Homo sapiens: one gene and its partner. The protein of the gene in region 1 purifies or fractionates together with the protein of each later gene. This does not show direct contact. Each region holds a gene or a part of one and is shown in the gene's direction. Other genes may lie near its edges.

What was found. The genes of interacting proteins can lie anywhere in the genome.
Region 2: the proteins of NEK3 (region 1) and KATNB1 purify together in Homo sapiens (affinity purification with mass spectrometry; 2 studies listed by BioGRID and IntAct, with this or other methods). This does not show direct contact.

Annotation. Positions count from the first base shown.
Region 1 is NC_000013.11:52,155,879-52,164,802, reverse strand, and holds the start of NEK3 (serine/threonine-protein kinase Nek3), read left to right. Parts: upstream 1-5,205; 5' UTR 5,206-5,260; intron 5,261-5,347; exon of another isoform or gene 5,348-5,605; intron 5,606-7,456; exon of another isoform or gene 7,457-8,554; 5' UTR 8,555-8,611; coding exon 8,612-8,728; exon of another isoform or gene 8,729-8,924.
Region 2 is NC_000016.10:57,738,770-57,746,531, forward strand, and holds part of KATNB1 (katanin p80 WD40 repeat-containing subunit B1), read left to right. Parts: intron 1-2,917; coding exon 2,918-3,048; intron 3,049-5,624; coding exon 5,625-5,742; intron 5,743-7,762.

The DNA of each region.
Region 1 (8,924 bases):
CGGCCTCTACTAAAAATACAAAAACCAGCCAGGCTTGGTGGCTGGCGCCTGTAATCCCAGCTATTTGGGAGGTTGAGGCAGGAGAATTGCTTGAACCTGGGAGGCGGAAGTTGCAGTGAGCCAAGACTGTGCTACTGCACTCCAGCCTGGGTGACAGAGCAAGACTGTCTCAAAAAATAAATTAAAAAAATAAAATCTCTGTATTTCAAAGTTAAGCTAATTTGGTTTCTGCCTCTGAGAAAAAGGAAGATGCCTCAAGCATTGTCTTTGGTGGATATGTGGGAAACTTCATTAGAAATAATCTAGTCTTCACCATTGTGTTCCTAGGTCCTAGCCCTTGTGGCTGCCATAGAGTAGCAGCTCAATAAAATTTGTTCAATAAATGACCAGCTATTCAAAAGCTTTCCAGAAACGGGAACACAAACTTCTACAAGAAACAAAAGGCATGCTGGCATTAGATTGATCATCAGCTGCACTAAAAATGGTGGAATAATAGCTTGAAAGTTCAGGGGGAAAATGATTTTCAACTTGAGACGCCTCTACCCAGTCAAATTACTTGCGAGGGCAATATAAAGACATTGTTACACATGCAAAGACTCAGAAAGCTTACCTGCCAGACACCTTTTCTTAAGGAGGAGTTATTAGAGCAGGTACTCCATCAGTAAAAGAGCAGAGTATCCTGAGGAAGCCATGGGATTCAGGCAGCTGCAGATGTGACTCAGAATGTCAGTTTTGTGGGTGACTAAGCCACCAGTTCATATCTGAGCAAGAACGGGGGATCCAGGAAACAAAGGTATTTCATGGAATATACAGTTGGAAGAACTTGAAGATATACTTCAGGCAAAGAAAAGGAAAATAAGAAAAGTACCTAGAAATTATATTTCCTAAAAGACTCTACAAGAAAATCACAATACAAATATGAGTTAAACTGAGTCATCAGTGGGCTTTCAAAAAAATATTCCAAGAAAATAGAATGGGTAAGATGGCACAGATTTCTTTCAACAACAAAAAAGTACTAGGCAAAGCAACAACAACAAAGTAACCATGATTTTGAGAAACTGAACAGCACAGGGTTGAGACATTGTGATTACACAGGAAAATCAGGCCCAGCAAACTGCTTAGCTCTGCTGTGGACCAACATTTTCATAATGTTAATGCTGCTTATTGGTTATTGTCTATTAGAACCAACTTATAGAAGACTTAGGCCGGGCGTGGTGGCTTATGCCTCTAATCACAGCACTTTGGGAGGCTGAGGCAGGCAGAGGTCAAGACCATCCTGGCCAACATGTTGAAACTCCGTCTCTATTAAAAATACAAAAATTATCTGGGCGTGGTGGTGCACGCCTGCAGTCCCAGCTACGTGGGAGGCTGAGGCAGGAGAATCACTTGCACCCCGAAGGCAGAGGTTGCAGTGAGCTGAGATGGCGCCACTGCACTCCAGCCTGGCGACAGAGCGAGACTCCATCTCAAAAAAAAAAAAAAGAAGACTTAGTTACAGAAGGGAATATAAATGTTATCAGTTGTGGAAATCTAAGAGAGTACAGCTTTGAAAAGTTTGGAGGTACAGAGGTTTGAGGCTGCAATGAGCTATGATTGCACCAGAGGTACTCCAGCCTGGGCAACAGAGGGAGGCCTCATTTCTAAAAAATAAGAAATTTGGAGGTAGAAGCAGAGGTGGGGAGTTCAAGGGAAGTAAGAGTTCTTCCTATCATGAAATGGAGAACCAAGAGGCGCTGTCTGTATTTAATAGAACTAAAAACAACAGTTTAAGGATATTAAAGTTACTAAAGTGAACAATAGGACTAAATCATAGTGTTAACTACCATGTGCACCTTAGGGGGGTGAATTAAGCTGACTTTTTATCAGTCCTTGCAAGAGTCAATAGTGTCACAAAATAGCAGCTTAATCCTATTCATACAGTTGAAGATCATCAGGAGAATTTAAAACCACAAAGGTCAAAGTGGTTGCCCTTTGGAAGTGGGACTGAAGCTGGGGAGATAAAAAGCAAGGAACAATTGCTTTTTGTTCTAGGTCTTCCTCTACTCAACTTTTTTTTTCCCCTTTGACAAAACAAAAACCAAACATAACAATCCTGGTGAGGGTCAGAGATCATCTATTTTAATGCCTGGAAATATATTCGGTGAGTCATCTTGTGGCTCTTAAACCAAACCGAAGTTAAAAAGTATAAGAAAGTCTATATAACTGTAGACTACAAAGCAGTTAATACAGAGTGAAAACTCCCAGTCATCTCAGGAGAAGTGGCGTTTTATTATTTCTGGATATATCCAGAAGCTCTCCTGGCTGGGTATCCACAGCTTGGCAACAGCTGCATAAAAAGGGGGCCAGACCTTCTCTCACCATCCCCTCTCCCTACCCTCACCAGTCTATTCTTACTGACTTACAGGTTGAATTGCATCCCCCACAAAATATACGCTGGAGTCCTAATGTGCAGTACCTCAGAATGTGATCTTATTTGGAAATAGGGTTGTTAAGGATATAATTAGTTAAGATGAGGCCACACTGGGGTAGGATGGTCCCTCAATCTGATATGACTGGTGTCCTTATACAAGGGGAAATTTAGACTCAGAGACAGTACACATAAAGGAAAGGCAATGTGGGGGAGAAGAAGGCCATCTACAAGTCAAGTACAGAAGCCTGGAACAGATCTTTTCGTTCCAGCCCTCAGAAGAAACCAACACTGTCAACACCTTTATTTTGGACCTCTAGCCTCCAGAAGTATGAGATAATAAATTTGATTAAACCATTCATTTAGCTTGTGGGACTCTGTTACAGCAGCCCTGGCAAACTAATACACCGATGGAACAAGGGAAAGAATCCCTTTCATGACTGCCATCATTGGGTGGGAAAGAAAAGCATTAAGCACCTTTGTCATCTTCTCCCCTGATGCTGTCACAAATTTAATCTGATAGAAATCTGTCTTTTGCTCAGTTCTCAAGAGCAGCATTCTGAGTACAGGCATGGGCAGTATTTTTTTTTTTTTTTTTTTAGACAGAGTTTCGCTCTATCACCCAGGCTGGAGTGCAGTGGCACGATCTTGGTTCACTGCAACCTCCGCCTCCCAGGTTCAAATGATTCTTATGCCTCAGCCTCCCGAGTAGTTGGGGTTACAGGCGCCACCCACCATGCCCAGCTAATTTTTGTATTTTTAGTAGAGACAGGGTTTCACCATGTAGGCCAGGCTGGTCACGAACTCCTGACCTCAGGTGATCTGCCTACCTCGGCCTCCCAAAGTGCTGGGATTACAGGCCTGAGCCATCGTGCCTGGCCTTCTTTGTTTTTAATTGAAACTAGTCTTTGTATAGAGTACAAAGAAAGCAGTGCAGATGTTGTAAATGTTGATTTGTAGCATTTCCCTTCTCTTATCACCACACTACAGAATAGTTGTACATTAACTTTGACATTGTGGAAGGAAGGCAATTGGAGCTGGCCAGAGCAAAGCCATTTTGTTCCTGAATGCCATTTTACAACTGCCTGACTGCAGAATGTACTTGCTGATGTTGCAGACAAAATTGCTGCCATTATGAAAAGGACTTCATGCTGAGGACTGAACTTTTCTCAAACCCCTGAATCAAGGACTTTTGCCTAGAAACCAATGAACTGTCATGATAACGCTTTATCTTCAATCAAAATAGTGGGTTACGAAGGTTATGGATGAACTAGTGAGAACTGACTTCTTACTTCCTTTAAAAACCCTACCCAAAAATAGCTGGTCAGGACACAATTCAAATGCTTCTGGAATCTGTGTTCCTTGAACTGCAATTCTCAGACTGCCAATAAACTTCTTTACTTGGATTTCGGTCTCTCTGACTCTGGTTGACACGTTATAATGAACACGTTCAGCGCTTACAAGTAAAGGGTAACCAGATGTTGTTCACAGTAATCCTATGAGGTAGGTTCTATACTTTTATACAGAGGGATTTAGTTACTCTGCTGTATTAGTTTCCTAAGGCTTCTGTAACAAACTGTGACAACCTAAGTGGCTAAAACGACACGAATTTATTACCTTACAGTTCTGAAGTTCAGAAATACAGCTCACTGGGTTAAAATCAAGGCGTCAGTGTGCATGGTGGTTTTCCTGTAGTCCCAGCCACTCAGGAGGCTGAGGTGGGCGGATCGCTTGAGCCCGGGAGCTCAAAACCAGTCTTGGCAACATAGCAAGACCCTGTTTCAAAAAACAAAAAAATCAAGGGGTCAGCTGGACTGTTACTTCTGGAAGCTCTGGGGAACAATTTGGTTTTTGTTTTTTGTTTTTCCCTCCTTTTCTAGCTTCTCCTCCTTTTCCACCTCCCACCTCCTCCTTTATATATATATATATATATATATATATATTTTTTTTTTTTTTTGGAGACAGGTTCTTGCTCTGTCACCAAAGCTGGACTGCAGTGGTGGGATCATGAGCCCTCTCCAGCTCTAGTGATCCTCCTGCCCCAATCCCCCGAGCAGCTGGGACCACAGTGCCCGTCGCTATGTCTAGTTAATTTTTCGTAGAGACGAGTGTCTCACTATGTTGCCCAGGCTGATCTCGAACTCCTGGGCTAAAGTGTTCCTCTCCTGCCTCTGCCTTCCAAAGCACTGGGATTGCAAACATGAGACACTGTGCCTGCTCCTCTTCCAGCTTCTTGAGGCCAGCTGCATTCCTTGGCTGTTGCCCCTTCCTCCACCTTCAAATAGCTTTCTCATACTGACCTTCTTTTTGGGCCCCTTCCACTTTAGAGAACCCTTGTAATTACTTTGTAATTACCCAAGCACACACTCCAAGATCGTCACCTTATTTTAAAGTCCGCTGATAAGCAACCTTAATTCCATCTGCAATCTTAACCCCCTCTGCCAAGCAAGAGAACAAACGCACAGGTTCCAGGGAGTAGGATGTGGACATCCTGAGGCGGAAGCATTATCCCGCCTTCCACAATTGCCCAAGGTCACATAGCTAGTAAGTTCTAGCTAGCACTGAGTGCTGTGCCCGTGAAATTTATCTACATAGGCTTTCACTTAACCTGCAGACAGAACTCAGTTAGTCGGGGACAATTTCCCTCAATGTTAACAGCACTGTTCCACCGCAACGTGGAACAACAGCTTTAAAACGTGCTCTTCGTAGGCCCGGCTACTCCAAGAACAGTGCCTCCCGCCAGACCCAGGCGGCTTCCTTCACCCGCAACCCGAGAGACGACCCGCCGGGCCCGCCCCGCGGAAGCCGCCGGTTGCCAGGCCAAGGAGTGGACTAGGGTCGCCGGGGAAGCGGGTGAGTGGTCCCCGCCCTGGCGGGCTGCCTCTAGAACGAGGAGGGCGGCGCGTGGTCGCGGCGCGGAGCCGAGTGGGAGCGAGGGGTAGACGCGCCCCGGACGCGCGGCCGCGCCCCTCACTTCCGCCCCGCGGTCTGGACCACTCGCCGCAAACCCGCAAGTCCCTCGCCGCCTTGGGGTCTGGGCGCGCGGTGCCGTGGGGGTCAGCAGGGCGGAGCGGCTTTTCCAGGAGAAAGGGCCCTCACGGGTGAGCGGGGCGACTGGGCTCCCCCGCGGTGCAGTTGCCCCGCGGGCGCCGGCCCCGGCTCAACGGATTCTTCTCGCTCGCTGCCCGGAAAGAACCAGTGAGAACCGCTGTTGCAGCAAAAAAAGAAGTTAATAAGCGCAGGGCTGGCCAAACCAGAACAGGGTCTCAGACCTGTCTCCCCGAGAATTCGGGGGCGAGGGTTTTAAAGGGCATTTTGGCTTCGGGGGGCTGGGGAACTGAAACAGTTGACCGGCTGGGGATGAAATCACAAGAGCTTCTGAAACTCGGGGCGGCTTCGTTGGTTCCCAGGAAGGGGTGGGGTCAGTTTCCCTTGTCTTGAAGTTTACACGAAATCCCTCTCCCAGTTATCCTAGCCTCTGTGCTAGAATAAGAAAACGACAACACGGTGAAAACTTAGCCCGTGAGGTTAGAAGCAAGATGGAGTCAGTCATGTTAGATTTCTCGCATTACTTATACATCTGTAAAGGTGGTTTCAGGGACCTTTCTGAACTTAGCCCGTATCTCACTGGTGATCCCACTTCTGGGTATTTGCAAATCACTTTATTAGGTTTTTAAAAGTATTGTTGCAGGCATGCGAAGGGGCCGATATACTTTTGCCATGTCCAGAGTGTATTCAGGTCTTGTAATGATCATATGGGTGTAATATTGAGTAACAGGCAAATGTGGGCAGAAAATATCAAATGTGGTTTTCAGCTAAGAAGTCTGGTTGCTCTTAATTTTCAGTTACTCTCCATTGCATAGAATAAAGCCCCGAAGAAACGAAGAATAAGATCATGGGGAAACTTGGCTTCCATGTTAAACCGTGTAATACCAGGTGTTAGAATAGTAGTAAAGGACTTGTTTCTTTCACATCTATATACACTCAAAAGACCTCATCGATCTTGGAAAAACATTGTTTCGAAGACAATGTGTATGACTGATTTGGTTATATGAAGAAATTATTTCTAGGATTTCCTGGTAATTCTGTGATAAACAGTAATACAAACTGGAATTTTTACAGGTCACTATAGTAGAGGTTTTAGTTTGATTTTTGCTTTGCCTGTCATGCTCTCTCTGCCTTATAATTCTTTGTGGTGTAATTAAAAAACGAACACTAGGGCCGGACGGGGTGGCTCACGCCTGTAATCCCAGCACTTTGGGAGGCCGAGGCGGGCGGATCATCTGAGGTCGGGAGTTCGAGCCCAGCCTGACCAACATGGAGAAACCGCGTCTCTACTAAAAATACAAAATTAGCCGGGCGTGGTGGCGCATGCCTGTAATCCCAGCTACTCGGGAGGCTGAGGCAGGAGAATCACTTGAACCTGGGAGGTGGAGGTTGCGGTGAGCCGAGATCGCACCATTGCACTCCAGCCTGGGCAACAGGAGCGAGACTCCGTCTCAAAATAAAAAACAAACACTGTAAGCTTTTTGAAAAATCAAGTAAATTCATTACAGTGTTTTTCCTGCAATGAAAAAGAATGCATCACTTCCCTAAGGTTTTAATAATCATAATAGCTGCCAGTTATTCAGGACCTTGTATGTACCAGGCAAAGTGTTAGGAACGTTTTATCCATTTTCTCTTATGTGCTAAGCAGTCCCGCTAGCTGCTTCATCCTGGAAATATAGATGGGAGACTGAAGTCAAGGACTCCAACTGTGTGTTTAACATCTCTCTTGACTCCCAGGAACCTCCAGTTTGGCATGTCCAAAATGAAACACATGTCTGTCTTCTATCAATATGTTTTGCCCAACCCCTGCAACACTCCCACTTCCAGAAAAATCACACAAACAAAAAACCACACACACAACCATTGTGCCTTTCCTCTCTCAGGGAGTGCCAAGAAACCATCTGGTTCATGCCAGAAACTTGGGAGTCAACCTTGCCCCCTTCTCTGCTTGCCCCCCATAAATCTGCCACCACAAATCCTGTCAACTGTTCTTACATCTTTCCTTCCCATTTTTTCTGACCCCATTGCCTCCACTCTATTCCATTTCATTATTTTCCTGCCTTTTCTATTGTTGGAGCCTCCTAACTGGCCTGTGTCTCTGAGCTGGCCTTCCTGCCCCTCCTCCACTGGTCCATTTAATCTGCAATCTGAGTGAATGTTTTTTCTAATATGCAAATATGATTATATTGCCTTCTTGGTTAAAATGCTTCAGCAGCTTGTTACATTCTTCTTTCAATTTCTTGAACTGAATGTAATTTCTTTAGCTCTTAAATATGCAATTTCCTCTTCCTTGATTACTCTTTTCCTCCTCTTTGTCTAGCCAAGTTTCATTCATCCTTCAGGCTTCAGCTTAAATAGCCTACATTTGTTGAGGTTTATGGTTATCTCTGCATGGGATGTCCACGTTGGCAGGGACTATGAGAGATTTTTCAGATTATAACATCTGACTCAGAGTTGGTGCTCAGTGTCTGCCTGTTGTATGTAGTATAGGGGAGGAAAAACATTTTTTCTCTGCCCTCTTAGGTTCAGTAGCTGGGCCCTGCAAAATAAACTGATGAAAGATAGATTAACAGGAAAAAAGGTTTATGCATAAATGTAAAGAAGTGGTTAGACCAGGGGGCTCATATGCCATTTTAACAAAGAGTGATAAATTATAGAGAAGTAACTAGACAAAAGTAGGGGAATGCTTCTTGGGTAAATTGTAGGAAGGTAAATATATGGCGGAAGCTAACATAAGATAAGGGTTATTCAGTAAAGTTTGTTATGTGGACTCAAGTTGGTGCCTTCCCCATTGGTAAGAGTTGCTCTCCTCTTCCTGGTACTGGAAAGGAAGACACATTTACAAATGGATATTTATTACCTGTACATAGGAAAATTTATGCCCTGCATTTATACAAAAAAGGGAGGGCAAAGAGCAAATTGGTTTCAGCTCAAAACAATTCTTACATGAAAGTGGCATATTTTGGGGTAGCATACACTGATCCTCTTCAAAAGGAATAATTTGCTTTTCTCTTATCATGGTTATGAGAGCTACTTTGAATTAATTTTTGCTTTTTGAAAGTACATTTAATTCTCAAATGTTTCTGCTTTTGAATGCAGTTTGGGAGAGCCCATGGTGACTGCGTGAGTGGAGCCCAGCTGTGTGGATGCCCCAGCATGGATGACTACATGGTCCTGAGAATGATTGGGGAGGGCTCCTTCGGCAGAGCTCTTTTGGTTCAGCATGAAAGCAGTAATCAGATGTTTGCCATGAAAGAAATAAGGCTTCCCAAGGTCACTACTAAAGAAATTAGCTCACTTTGAAAGTATACATGCAGTTTATATAAAAGAATAAGTTTTTGGCCAGGCACAGTGGCTCACACCTGTAATCCCAGCACTTTGGGAGGTGGAGGCGGGTAGATCACCTGAGGTCAGGAGTTTGAGACCGGCCTGAGGTCAGGAGTTTGAGGCCAGCCTGGCCAACATGGGG
Region 2 (7,762 bases), on another chromosome or scaffold:
TCCCTTCGACAGCTGGCCTTTCCCCAGAGCTAGGCACTGGGGAGCCACTGGGGGACAAAGTAGTCAAGGTCTCTGTACAGCGGGAGCTCAGAGCCTGGGGAGAGCAACAGGCAGGAACTGGATAACCGTATCCCTCTGTGTCTCCTCTAGTTGCAAGCTGGTGCCTGTGCTTTGAATCAGTTAGCTGGGGGGTAGGGGTAGGGGTGGGGTGGGAATGCTGCAGGCTGCATGAACAGCAAGTGCAAAGGCCCTGAGGCAGGAGGCTCAGTGTATTGGAAGGACTCAAGGGAGGCCATGGGCAGTGGCACAGCAGCAGGAGGAATGTGGGGCCGCACGGACCTACTGAGTTCTCAGGACCCCAGCCCTCCTGAGGCTGCCGTGCTTTATCATAAAGGCAAGGCCAAGCCATCAGTGTGTGCGAGCAGGAGGTAATGAGATCAGGCGTATTGGGCATCTGCTGCTGCTGCTGATTTCATGTGCACGGTGGTGTCCGTGGGAATCAACTCTGAAGAGCCCAGGGCCACGTGACCTCTGGCTCCTTGTGGCTCCAGGGTCTGGTGAGGATCAGAGGTGCGTGGCCCACATGAGGTCGTTGAAACCTAGTACTTTGTATCTTGCATTTGGGATGCTGATCCTCAGCCCCTCTGGCCACGCCGCACCATGTTCCCCAGCTTTGGCTGGATGTGGGGCCCAGGTTGTACTCCCAGAGCTTGGCCTGCCAGTAGACACTGAGGATTTTTATTTTTTATTTTTGGTATGAAAATCAAGTATTCGGCCTGGGCTGTTGGTTGCTGTCCAACAAGCCAGGATGAAGGAGGAGCTCTTGGGGTGGTGCCCCGTGCCTCCTTTGCAGGTGCCTGTGCTGTGTCCCTGCCCCTCTGCCCTCCCTCTGTGGGCTCCAGTCAGTCCCTGGTCAGGCTGCTTAGAGGGGAGTGATGTGGGCTCCTCCAGAAGGGCCCAACTTCTAAATCTTTCTCACTCCAAAGTCTGCGGTTTTGCCAGCTCAGTGTCCCGCCCCCACCACCATCTGATTATACTGGGGCATATTTCGTGCAAGGCCTAGAACAGGCACCCAGGAAATACTGATATTATGAATGAATGCCCCTGACTCCAGGGGCAGCAGTCCTGAGGCCCAGTGAGGTGGGGCCCAGCCAGACACTTTCCCTGGGAGGAGTGAGGGCCAGGGGACAGACAGAGCCCTCCAGGTAGGCCAGGGGGAGCGAGCAGTGCCTCCACGGAGAGGACACCAGGCTCGGGCACGGAATGCCAGGGAGAAGGTGCTTTGCCCTCTTTCTGGGTCAGGTGGAAACCTTGAACAGACACGTCTGTGGCTGGAATTCCTCAGGTTTCTGTCCCGACAGTGTCCAGAGGACAGAAGGCTCTCATCGAGACGGGACTAAAGTGGGGCCCAGCTCCCTGGGATCCCCATGGCGAACTCCCAGCGCCCTGGCCCAGGTTTGGGCCCACAGGGAACCCTCGCCCTTGCTGGCGCTGCTGCCTGTGCTGGCTCTGCCCCGACCGGCCCAGGAGGCAGGGTGTCATCAGTGAGATTCAGCCTGCGACTTGTCCCCTGGGTATTCCTGGTGGCCCCTTGGAGCCCAGGTTTCTGGCAAGCAGCTTCCCTGGGCCCAGTTTCCCAACCTCCTTGTGGTCTGAAGCCCGCAGCAGAGACACCCAGGCAGGGTGGAGTCGGAGCTGGGGTGCAGGAGGGGCCTCTGTGGAGCGCCGTGGCTCCAACACCCTTTTCCTTGGCGTCACCCACGCTGGCCTTCCGGGTGCCTCGGGGCGTCAGCACCTTGGGGTTTTCCCCTGGCCTGTGTGGGGAGAACTGTCTTTTTTCTCCCTTCTTTCCAGGAGGAGCTCATGCAGGGATGGGTTCTGAGGCCCGGGCCGCCTCTTGGTTCCCTGCCTGTGCTTTGCTCCCTGCGGAGTCCTCCGAGGCTCCTGTCTGCCATCTCCACGGACCAGGCCAGGGCCTTGGGCTGTCTGCACAGGCTCCTCCTCTGTGTGGTCAGCCCTCACCCCCACCCCAGCTGCTCAGTCTGTTGCCTCCTGCCCCCTCCTCATGAAGCCCACCCTCTGGTGCCCGCCCAGGCCCCCATGCCCACTCTCTCATGGTGACTAGCCCCGAGCCTGCCCAATGTCACGGAGCCCTCGCCTGCTACTAAGCAGCACGTAGGCGCGCTCTGAGGGAGTCCTCAGCATCAGGTGTGAGCAGACACCACGGGCATCCCCACTTTCCAGACGAGGAGCCAGGCCCTCAGAGGACAAGTGACCTAGTAGCCAAGGCCACGCAATAGCAGATCACAGACCTCAGACCAGAACCTGATCCGTGATTGTGAATCTGAGCCGAAGCCCTGTGCAGGCTTACCTGGGGGCAGCTTGTCTAGAGGTGACTTCGGTTGTTCTTAAAGTGTGTTCTCCAAAGCAGGGTTTGTATGTACACACAAGCAGCAGCTGAGAGGTGTGTAGGCAGTGCATGGGTCAATTTTTTTTATTTCAATAATTGTTTTTCTTTTTGTATCATAGAAAGAGTATCATGAGTATATCAAACTTGTAATTTCATGGACATTGCTTAAGCCCAAGCTAATAAAAATAGCAAGTCAATTTTAAAAATTGCGTATAACTAGTCAATATTACCAGGTGATATGCAGAAACAGGAAGAAAATCGTGAAGTCTAAAGGTAGGAAAGACAGGCATGATGAAAGTTGAGAAACAGTGATTTCCGTCTCAGGCCCATGCCCTGCCCTGTCTGCTGGTCCTGCAGCTCATGGTGGACACCAAAGGGGGAGCTGAAGGAGGCAGATCCTTCCACTGGGCTTCAGGTTCCAAAGCGGGTAGCCGAGCAGGGTCACCCCTCCTTCACAAGGCCCCATCGGGCCGCCCTGATGGCCTCTCCCTCTCCTTCCCTGTGTAGAAGAGATCGTCGCGCATGCCAGCAACGTGTCCTCACTGGTGCTGGGCAAAGCCTCCGGGCGGCTGCTGGCTACAGGCGGGGATGACTGCCGCGTCAACCTGTGGTCCATCAACAAGCCCAACTGCATCATGGTGAGCCCCGACAGCTGGCGGGGGGTCAGGACAAGGGCCTGGGGAGGGGACGGGGACAGGGGTTGGAGGCTGAAGAGTGAGCAGCTTCTCAGACTCTCTTGAGCCCAGGGCCCCCTATCCGCTGGGGCCCAGCTCAGGGGTGGAGGGGGCGTGGTGGGGACACCATCAGTGCTTCCCCCAGCTGTCTGCTCAGTGAGGCCCAGGACAGCCCAGCATGGCTGGGACAGTGGCCAGCCCTCAGGAGCGAGGGAGTCACCTGCCTGTGGTACTATTAAGAACTCCAGGCAGGCTGCGTGAGAAGATTAAAATAAGCCCTGGGCCTGTGGTTGAGCCAAAAGACTTGTACCCCTCCCCTCCCACCTGCCCATCTGCCTGCCTGGCAGCAACATGTGGGCGTTTATTTTAATTCATTCCCAGCCTTCATTCCCCAATGAGGATTTGAGGGGACCTGGCTGGAGCTGGTTAGGGAGCTAGTTCTTAAATAGCATCTCCCCACTATTTATGCAGCTATATGTTCAATGCTGGAAACTGTTTTCCAAATAGGAGTGCATAAAGGAGAAAACACAAAATTAACTACATATAGTTCCGTTATCCAAAGGCCACCACAGTTGGTGTTTTGGTGTGAGTCCTTCTAGATGCTGAGACAGATACATATACGTGTACATGCACGTAAGTGCACACTTGTACATGCATGTACACATGTATACACACAAATACTCATACAAGCACACACACATAAATAAAAATACACTGCCACTCTTGTGCAGCCTGGTTTTTAAAAATAACAATGTTGTAAGGATTTGCCTGTGTCAACAAGTATTCTTTTACAACATAATTTTGAATGGCTTAATGGTGTTCCATTGTAGGGATGAGCCGTAATTAGCTTAGCCACACCCTGTTATCAGCAGAGAGGTTGTTTCCGGCTTTTTTTGGCTCTGCTAAAGCACCCTGTGGTGAACATCCTCAGCCACCTAGATCCTTGAGCAGATCCGTGATCACTGCATTCAATCCAAGGGTGTGTGCTTTTGTTAAAGCTTTCAAAACAGATTGCCAAATTGCCCCCCAGAAATCATTTTACATTCTCACCAGCAGCATCGGAACCTGCCCTTTCCTCCCTGCCCCAACCCCCATCCCTTGCCAACCAGGGAGTATCATTGTTGTGACTCTTGGTGAAATAAAGATGAAGAGGAATAGGCCGGGCACAGTGGCTCACGCCTGTAATCCCAGCACTTTGGGAAGCTGAGGCGGGTGGATCACCTGAAGTCAGGAGTTTGAGACCGCCCTGGCCAACATGGTGAAATCCTGTCTCTACTAAAAACACAAAAATTAGCCGGGCGTGGTGGCAGGCACCTGTAGTCCCAGCTACTCAGGAGGCTGAGGCAGGAGAATCGCTTGAACCTGGGAGACGGAGGTTGCAGTAAGCCGAGATGGTGCCACTGCACTCCAGGCTGGGTGATAGAGCAAGATTCCATCTCAAAAGAAAAAGAAAAAGAATATGGCAAAGGATGAATTTCTTAGTAGAAACTTAATCACCTCAGTGTTTTTCTGAGATCCAGGGGGAGAACTGAGATCCACCCCAGCCTCAGCAAGGGTGCCAGGGGTCAGTAATGATGAATTGAATTGTTTTGTTTTACTTTGTTTCTAGGATTCAAATGTGTTTTCTACCCCCATGAAATGCCAAAGTAGTAGCATACACAAGTTGAAAAAGCATCACCAATGACTGACCAAAAATAGGACATGCCACGACCCCCAGAGAAACGGGGCCAACCGTCTGGGGCCTGGCCTGCAGGCTTGTTTTAGAACGCCAGGTGCAGCTGTCAGGCCCCAGCCGGCCTCACCCCGGGCCCCTGCCCTGGCTCACACACACCAGCCTCCCAGGCCTCGCAGTGCCTCCAGCCTGCCGGGGTCTCTCTCCCCTTGGGGTTTCTGTGCACGCTGTCCCCCTGCAGGCCGTCCACTTGGATTTATTTTTATTTTTGAGTATGGGATACACTTATTCTGTTCAACATCCAAAAGATAGAGGATCCACAGTGAAAAGTCTTCCACCCTCCTCCAACCGCCACAGCCCTCTCCTTTCCACGGGGATGGGCAGTCAGGGAGAGCCAGGGGTTCTAGAGGGGCGAGATGTGTGCCCAGGACTAGGCAGGCCTTGGTTCCGCTGTGGCTTACCTCGCTGAGGGGCTTGCCTGGGGCAGAGTGAAGATGGGAACAGAGCGGGGGCAGGGTTGCTTAACTTAGGGCTGAAGGGACAGCATCCCTTTATCTTGTCCAGTCGCTCCCCTCCAAGGGGCCCAGGGCCATTTCTGCAGGTGACGCCCATGTCAGAAGCACAGCAGGGAAGAGGGAGGTGGTGGGGGGATGATTGGGGTTTGGCCACTCTTAGCCCTGGGAGCTGAGGCCGAGAGGAGTAGGTGCTCAGAAAGGGCCTGCAGGAGGGCTAGGCTGTGGCCCCCATGGGGCTCCCCCTCCTGCCTTAGCCATTTCTTGCTGAAGCCTTTCCGGGGGACTTGGAATTCAGGGCGCAACTGCAGGGGTCTGTCCAGCAGTGCACGGAAGCTGCTGCTCTCTCTCCACAGAGCCTGACGGGCCACACATCCCCAGTGGAGAGCGTCCGCCTCAACACCCCCGAGGAGCTCATCGTGGCCGGCTCTCAGTCGGGCTCCATCCGTGTCTGGGACCTGGAAGCTGCCAAAAGTAGGCCTCCGAGCTTGCCTCCTGTGCACGCACACCTGCCTTAGTCTTCAGGCTCTGCAGTTGTACTGCTTCCTCCAGGAAGCCTGCCTGGACTACGTTGGCTGCTTTGCTCCTGGAGCACTAACCCGGCAGTGTGGCACCCACTCCACCCCCATTAGCCTGGCATTGACATGCACTGCTGCCTCGTGTGGGTGGGGGGATGTGCGGGTGTGTGTGTGTGTGTGTTTGGATGTATGTGTGTTTGGATGTGTGTGTCTGCGGGCACGTGTGTGTGTGTGTGTGTGTGTGTGTTTAGAACCTAGAGGGATGTCACATGCCGCCAGGGGCCCTGCAGGTCACATGAATGAGTGAGGTGGCTGCGTGGGACAGCCATGAAGAACCGGGGAGCTTGTACCCTGACTCCAGGTGGTCCCCACTCTGCCTTGGCTCCCTGGTGCCATTAGAGGCAGCCTGGAATGGCCAGATCTGTTTCCTTGTGCTCTGTTTTAATTTAGTTTTCATCTGTATAGAAGTTGTACATAGCCTAAAATTTAAAACCTCAAATACCAGTATTTCTACAATTAATTTCAATGGAAAGAGGAAACTTCTGCCCCACTCCTTCCCATTCTCCATGAGCCTAAACTTTCTGTGCTTTCGTCTGTGCTTTGCTGATCGCCTCCACCTTTCTAGACCACATGGTCATACCACAGTTTCTTTCTTTTCTTATTTAAAAAACACCGTGGCCAGGCGCAGTGGCTCACGCCTATAATCCCAGCACTTTGGGAGGCCAAGGCAGGCGGATCACCTGAGGTTGGGAGTTCGAGACCAGCCTGACCAACGTGGAGAAACCCCATCCTGAGGTTGGGAGTTCGAGACCAGCCTGACCAACGTGGAGAAACCCCATCTCTACTAAAAATACAAAATTAGCCGGGTGTGGTGGCACATGTCTGTAATCCCAGCTACTTGGGAGGCTGAGGCAGGAGAATCACCTGAACCCGGGAGGTGGGGGTTGTGGTGAGCCAAGATCGCACCATTGCACTATAGCCTGGGCAACAAGAGCGAAACTCCATCTCAAAAAAAAAAAAAAAAGTTAACACATTAGTTATTCTCTTCCTACTGTAAAGGATGAGAATTTAGCTCTCTCATGGCACCACTCCCAGCCCCATGGCTCGTGTTTCTCCTCCCACCCTCCCAGTAGCACCATTTCAATAGGTGGTGTTTATAATGTAAGGACGCATAAGTGTCATTTACCACTGACTATTTCTTTTTAATAACTTGGTTTCCCTGGAGTTAATAATAGTTCCTTTTTTTTTTTAATCTGTGTGTTTTCTATGTCCATATTACTCATTCATCCCCAAATTCTCTGCCAGAAGAGTAAAGCTCCTCCTGTTTCTTTGAAACCCATCCCATAATCCAGGCGCCTTTTCTCAGAGCCTCTCCTCTGGTCCTAGTGACCTGCAGCCCAGCTGTCATCCTGGGCCTCTGTGTCTCTTCTCTGGGGAATTCTCTCCATCTGTTGTTCCTGGTCCCACGCCGCAACCTTTCTTGGTTTTCTCCCTCTTTTTGATGGAGCACATTCTTTTGTAGCTTTCTGAGAAAATGTGCTGGGAAGGCATAGTTTTGGAGAACTTCCATGGCTGAAAATGACTTTCTGCTACCCCCATCATTTGCTTTTGTGTTTGTTTTATGAGTTTGAGTATAGAGTTCTATGTTGGCAATAAAATATCGCCCTCAGAATTTGGAAGGTGCAGCTTTTCTGCCTTTTAGGTTCTAGGTTGCTATTGGGAGGGGCCGGTGTTGTTCTGATCCCAGATCCTTCACAGGGGACTGGCTTCATTCCATGTTCTGTCTCTTCCTTCCTCTCTCTCTCTCTTTTCTTTCCTCTCTCTCTCTGTCTCTGCAGGCTTTTAGGGTCTTTGTCCCAGTGTTCTGGTGTGGTGAGCCTTGGGGTGGGTCTGCTTCCACCCTGTGCTAGGTCGTCACTGGTTTCATGCGGTTGTGGTCTGGAAACTCATGCCCTCAGTTCTGGGCTGAGCGGAGA